Linked DNA regions of Homo sapiens. The protein of the gene in region 1 purifies or fractionates together with the protein of each later gene. This does not show direct contact. Each region holds a gene or a part of one and is shown on either strand. Other genes may lie near its edges.

What was found. Proteins that work in one complex are often made in the same cells at the same time.
Region 2: the proteins of NDEL1 (region 1) and CLPX purify together in Homo sapiens (co-immunoprecipitation; 3 studies listed by BioGRID and IntAct, with this or other methods). This does not show direct contact.

What each region holds. Positions count from the first base shown.
Region 1 is NC_000017.11:8,463,384-8,466,883, reverse strand, and holds part of NDEL1 (nuclear distribution protein nudE-like 1), read right to left. Parts: intron 1-3,500. UniProt on the Homo sapiens protein: Required for organization of the cellular microtubule array and microtubule anchoring at the centrosome. May regulate microtubule organization at least in part by targeting the microtubule severing protein KATNA1 to the centrosome.
Region 2 is NC_000015.10:65,161,343-65,164,842, reverse strand, and holds part of CLPX (ATP-dependent clpX-like chaperone, mitochondrial precursor), read left to right. Parts: intron 1-654; coding exon 655-814; intron 815-2,197; coding exon 2,198-2,239; intron 2,240-3,500. UniProt on the Homo sapiens protein: ATP-dependent chaperone that functions as an unfoldase.

The sequences.
Region 1 (3,500 bases):
AACTCATTTAAAATCACTCACACACAATAGGAAATTAATCTGCTTTCTAAAACTATTCCTCGCAGGCTGTAGGGTCCTGATGGCCCAAGGGGCACTGGCTGCCTGGAAAGCACCAGCTGGTTAGAGAATTGAGCCTTTGGGAATCCTGGGGAACCAGGACCACATGACCTGTTTGGCAACTGCCGCACACTGGCCACGGAAGCCACAGTCCTGATTCTTTCCCCATAAAGCAGGTCTAAATGCCTGGCAATAGGGAACTAGTTAAATAAATAATGGTACAACTGAACAATAAGATATTGCACAGCCATTAAAAACACATTCCACAAGTTTTTTAATAGCATGGGAAAATATTCAGAATGTAACTAACACTAAGTGGAAAAAGATGCAGGTTACCAAACTCTGTAGATTCAATGATATGAAAGAAAAAAAAGCAAATAGTATATATTCTAGATTCTAGACTATAGCCCCTTAGATAGACATTACTATCCATGCAGCTAAATCCACAAAGCAGGGACAGAGGGGGAGTGTGTATAAATAAATGTATATATACATACATTATATATACGCATACACATATATATATACACACACCAACATATATGTACATAGGATCATATATATCATAAAAAGAAAATTTAAGAATCGTTACTTTTCTTCCCTCTGGGCTGTGGGTGAATTTTGTTTACTACTTTATCCTTTTTTAATCATTTTCCAAATCTCCTTACATTTTCCAAATATAATGTATTAATACACGAATATCTTAATAAGGTGGAGAAAAATAACCTTTTAAAAATTGTTTAGCAAGCAACGCCAGATGAGTAGGCTTTTCAACGCAGACTCGTGTGCAGACAGCCCAGCCCAACCCAATAGCCTGCAGCCAGGACCCAGCACCCGGAGCCCAGCGACACAGGGAGCCCCCCAGCGTCCCCATCACGCACCCAGAGCCCAGCGATGCAGGGAGCCCCCCAAGCATCCCCCTCACGCACCATGCAGCGCAGCCACAGGAAGCAGCAAGAGGGGGAGGGAGTGTGCAGCCTGGAACCTCTCTCAGGAGCCACTTCAGCCTTTCCACCTTGAAACGCTTCCTAGGAAAATTTGTCCCACTAGCAATTTGGGAGATAAAGCCAACTACGACAAGGGGCCACACTGCACCACACCTGCCCACTACTGCCCCCACCTACTCATCAGACGGCTCCAGGGAGCTAAATACAGACTCATGGAGAGAGGTTCTCCTTAAAAAAAAAAAATGCCGACACACACTCCCTGCAGAGACAGCTGTTTCGTACACTGACGGGGTGAGGATAACCTCACAGACAAACAGGCATGCAGAGACTTGACAAATAGTCCCTGCCTACTTGGAAGAAACAAAGTTCATGTCTAAAGAAACTAAACTCAGAGTACATATGTGGAGTTTAAATTCCAACCACGCATACAGAGACCAAGAGCCCCAGGAGAAAGGCTCTGACAAATGTCATTTCTCCCTGTTGCACACTGTCCTACTTCGACGACAAACAGCCAGATTGTCTCTTTCCTCACTGGGTTAGGTCTGATTTTTGAGCTTCAACACATTTGCAAGTTTGAAATCATCCTTCCCACTCTCCCAAGGTCACAGGCCTGTGCCTCTTCTGGGGCCAAGGCCATATCCTATTTGCCACGGTAGCCCTCATATAATAGGCTCCATCTGTCTGGCTAGTCCCAGAGTCCCTGACACCTGCTTCTCCTAGAAACCTCAGGGACAACCAGGCAGGCCCCACAAATGCCTGCAGCTCTCAGCACGTGTGAACCTCAGATTCCTGGCCTCACACATCACAGTGGCAGGCAAGCCCCTAAACCTGTACTGCAGACAGTGCCCGGAACCCAGCAGAAAGGGAGCACCATTGGATGCCAAGAAGAATCTGGCACCTGGGCCACGGGGGTGTACAAAAGCAGCAACTAGGAGATGGCTCCTCAAGCAGGTTGAGGATGGGATTCTGGCATTTTCAAGTGCACCGTAAGGAACAACAGGTTCATCCCACTGTTCCACTGCCAAGACAACCAAAGCAAGAGAAGGTCCAGCCATTAGCCTAGGCTCACCTAGTGAGCCACTGATGGGGAAGTCGGGGCCACAGCTGCCTCCAGATGCCCAGGCCAGGACCCTTTTCTAGTCTCCTCCTGGTCAGAGGCCACCTAGCAGCCCTCAGAAGCAACCACTTCGGCACTCCAATGCAGGCCGGCTCTAATGGGAAAAGTAAGTGGTGCAGCCCAGACTATAAAGAGAGAACCGGTAAATTTCTACATGGGCAGAAATGGAACGCTTAATGTGAAGGTGGGTGGAGTAGAGAGGGAACATCAATCCACCAGGGTCTCACCTAGCGCCTCTCTCCTGACTCAAAAAGTAGAAAGTTAAAGAACAGAGAGAGAAGAAAGCTGGCCTTCTAGATGGGATGACAGGTCTAGTGAAGTCCTTCAGAGGCCTGCAAAGCTGTGCATGGGGAAAAGATTTGCAAGAGAAGAGACTCTATATTCAACAGATTCAGTTTCAGGGAGCAGCAAAGAGCCACAGGGCAATGTCCCAGTGCACAAGACAGGACTGAAGGAAGAGTGATGGGGCAGGCTTGAAGATACAGATCTGGGAATCATATATGTAAAAAAAAGGTTCCAGAGCTATAAAATTTCATGATCTTACCACCACAGACTAGTTAAGGAGGCTGAAATATAGAGAATCCAGCTAAGAAAAAGTGCTAAGGTCAGTTGTAAAATGTCAGTGGAAGAAGTGAAAAGGGGGAAGAGCCAAGGCACACTTAGAAGCTACTCAGGACAATAAATCCAAAGCAGCTGAGATGAAGGATGGAAACATTAACTCTGTCAAAGCAGCAAGGATCAGGACACTGGAGAGGGCAGGAGGGTGGGCTCAAGCTATCCAGAAGAGCCTGCAGGCAGGCACACGCCACACCTGAGTCTCCTATTTCAGTGGATGAGTGTGGGCTCAGAGCAGCTCCAGCCTGCTCCAGTTCTCAGCCCAGGCTCTGCAAACTGCAAAGCAGTTCTGAAATGTAAGGCAGATCTTACACACGTCCCCATGTACCATTCCATTTTAACTGGGGACTCCATGCGTGAGCGCAGAGGTGAGGGAATGCTCACACTGGTGCCTGACTTGAGAAAACAGAAGCAACTGGGTAACGGGAAGACCCCCAGTCCCAGGAAGACAGTCAAAGGTGATCCCAGGGCCTGACAGTGACCTCAAACCCCCATCGCCAGACTCTGAAATCAACACTACAGCGCCCTAGCCCATCTCAGGCGTGCCACCTGGCATGCTACTCCCAGCCACCCCAGGACCACTGCAACTAATTTGTTCTTGTTTCTCACAGCTGAACTAATAACGGCATACAGTCAAGTCGAACAGGACCGTGAAAGTTCACTGATGGGCTGTAAGTTGGTTAAAGCTGAGTCAGCCCCATGCAGTTAGTAAAACCAGATTGTTAATGTGTCTTCCACCACACACCAGGATTAAGAAAGAATGA
Region 2 (3,500 bases), on another chromosome or scaffold:
AGGAGTTCAAGACCAGCCTTGGCGACACAGTGAGACCCTGTATCAAAAAAAGAAAAAAATATATTTTTAGAAAATAAAAAAAAATAAGAATACAGTTTTTAGAGTCTCAGATAAATGAGTAGCTTTAAAGTTAATGTCTGAGAAAAAATTAAATTTACTAAAACACATAGATACTGATAGTATAATGGCTTTTGATTATGTAATGCCTGTTTCTGAAAAGAGTAGTTTTATAATGTTATCTTTGTGAAGAATGTTATTCATTTGATTGACAGGTATGGATTTATTTTAATGATTTACATTAATGTTGATACTTTTAGACCATGGTGGCATGTGTATGTATTCTAAGTTACTTTAAATTTAATTTGTTATCAAAAAATAAAGATTGATAGCATTGTTTATAGAATAGAAATTAGCACAACACTAGTAGAGTACAGTGATACTTTGTTAAGCTAGAGAACAAATGAATTGTGTTTTTGTTCATTTAGTGTTCAGGGCCTCTGAATCATTGCTATATAATGTATTGTCATTTTGTTTTTAATGAGAGTCTTTGTTCAGATTTAAAACTGTAAGCAAATATGCTTAGTAAATAACTTTTTAATGTGTGTGCTCTTATAATAGCTCATATTAAATTATTCATACCTAATCATTTTTCAGATTTATAACTACCTCGACAAGTATGTTGTTGGCCAGTCATTTGCTAAGAAGGTGCTTTCAGTTGCTGTGTACAATCATTATAAGAGAATATATAATAATATCCCAGCTAATCTGAGACAGCAAGCAGAGGTTGAGAAGCAGACATCATTAACACCAAGAGGTAGCGTTTTTGATAATTGACCTAAATAGAGATTGCTATGCTTAAAAGTAATCTTTATTTGTAACTCCTCACTTTCTTCTTAAAATGTTTTTTATATAGTGTGGCATTTTTCAAAGTGCAGGTTATTCCCCATTAGTGTGTTATGAAATCATTTGCCAACAGCATTTTTTAAAAATTTGATAGATATGAATAGAAAATAACAGAATACATTAACTTACAGTTAAGGTAAATATTATTTCTTAGGCCTGGCATGGTGGCTTATGCCGGTAATCCCAGCACGTTTGGAGGCCGAGGCGGGGGGATCACTTGAGGTCAGGAGTTCGAGACCTGCCTGGCCAGCATGGGAAACTCCGTCTCTACTAAAAATACAAAAATTAGCCAGGTGGGGTGGCACATGGCTGTAGTCATTATACAGTATACTGTATAATCTCAATTTACTATGGACAATAATGTATATTAATAGAATGATTTATTAAAAACAATTATGCATAGAGTAAATATGAATATTTAATTTTTTGTTTTGTTGGCCAGACAGCCCCAATTTCTGATTTAGGCCTATATTCCATCATTTTAGATTCTTTTAGTTATCACTGTACAGTGTGAAGGAGTTCTGCTAAGTACTTAAATTTATAAGTCTACATTATCTTTGATTGCCTTTAGTAGCAACTAAATGTATAATTTATTTCAATGAAGACACTTGTTCACTTGCTGAACTTACATCACATAACTGCAAAATAGGTATGTGATGGTATCAGTTATTTTTAGAAAGTATAAGTCATAACTAACGGATGACTTGGAACCTTTTTCTTTTTTTCAAGACAAGGTCTCTCTCTGTCACCCAGGCTGGATTGCGACTCACTGCAGCCTCAACTTCCCAGGCTCCAGTGATCCTCCCACCTCAGTCTCCCAAGCAATCCATCTGCCTCAGCCTCCCAAAGTGCTGGGATTAATAGGCGTGAACTCTTGCGCCTGGCCTGAAATCTTCATTTTTATAAGGTCCAAATAGCACTGATAGTTATGGAGCAAAACTTTTTTGTTTTCCTCGGTAATAAATAGATATTTAAGCTATTCTAAGTGCTGGAGGAGCAAATGGTTATAATATTTATAGCATGAGGGGCTTAAACTCTTATTAAAGACTTATGTTATTATACCCTTACAATAGATATCAATTATATATTTGACAAATGTGAATATTAGCAACTGGACAGCGGTCTTTATGCATGGTTTTGTTTTAATATAGAAAAGATATAGCATATATGAAAAGCTGAAAAATGTTAATGAACAAATCCTTTAAATATATTTGAAAGAGGACAGGAGGTGGGATACTCATTGTTTGTTCCCCCAAGGTAAACAAATATGTAATATTTTCATCCTCTTTCTTAGAGTTAGAAATAAGAAGACGGGAGGATGAGTACAGATTTACAAGTAAGTGACTTCAGGTCCTCCTCTGTAATCATTCTTCCTTTTGACATTTATTTCAGTGAAGTGTTTCAGCAGTAACAGTGATAGACATGTATGTATTTGCTTGTGTATTACCAAGAAAGATACGTATTATCTAAATGTGTTTATCCTACATGGTATATATAACTTTGGAATAGTTTTTCATAGCTAATTTGTGTCGTTTCCATATGTTGGGTTATTTTTTATTTTTTCTATCAAACTACAATTAGAGTTGGCCTGCTTCTTGTGGGTCACAGGAATTTGGGGGAGGCAGATTATTTTCTAGCTACTCTTTGCCAGAAAGCACACTGTTTTTTGGTTTTTTTTGTATTTATGAAACTTACAGTCTTACAAATTATGAGTAAGTCTTAATTCACTGTTTCCAGCCCCAGATTGCCCCTACAAGCATCAGATGGTCCGATGGAGGGTGTGGAAGGACTTGATAGACCAAGGAGAGTGGCCTTTCTGTTGTGTTCCACCTATTCCTTTGGAGGTGGATATAGTTAGTTGCTGCATTGAGGGTGGAGGTTCCAGGGGTGTCATAGAAAGATTCACATGGCCTTTTGTTTTAGTAATTGAAATAAAGAAAATTAGCTAAGTTTGATGTTTTTACATTTGCCTTTGAACCAAGTAGTATTATATATCCACTATTTGAAGTGTACTATATATAGGATGAGCCATGAGAATATAACTTGTGTACCAACTTGGGCATGACATTTATCACATGTAATAAAATTACATTATCCCCAGTTATTTTTAAATTTATAGAAATACTGATTATACCATGCGTGGTAAAATTAAGAAATACAGTAAGTGCAATAGAATTAGATTGTATATAAGAATGTAAAATCTAAATAATAACCTTTAGGTATATATGTAATTTATTTCATAATAAAAAAATATATTCAGATATGCAGTCAATACCATACTCATAAATTGTGTTGACAGCTAGTTAACCTATACTAAATTAGTAAAGAAAGTCTGTAGTGCATATTTTGAAAGACATGTCATGTAATATATGTAGTGATTTAATGTTATTTAAATGTTAACAAGTAACAGTATTTAAGAACTTATGTAAAAGATTGACTTAGAAACAAATATTTCAAAAGCTTAAATTTATTGTCATGTGCAGTTTTGTTGTGTTTTACATGGGATTTTAAGTTCTAAAGTTAGGTTGTTAACTAACACTGGCTGGGGGTGTTAGACCCTAACACTGGTCTAGGGTTTTAGACCAAAATCATGTACA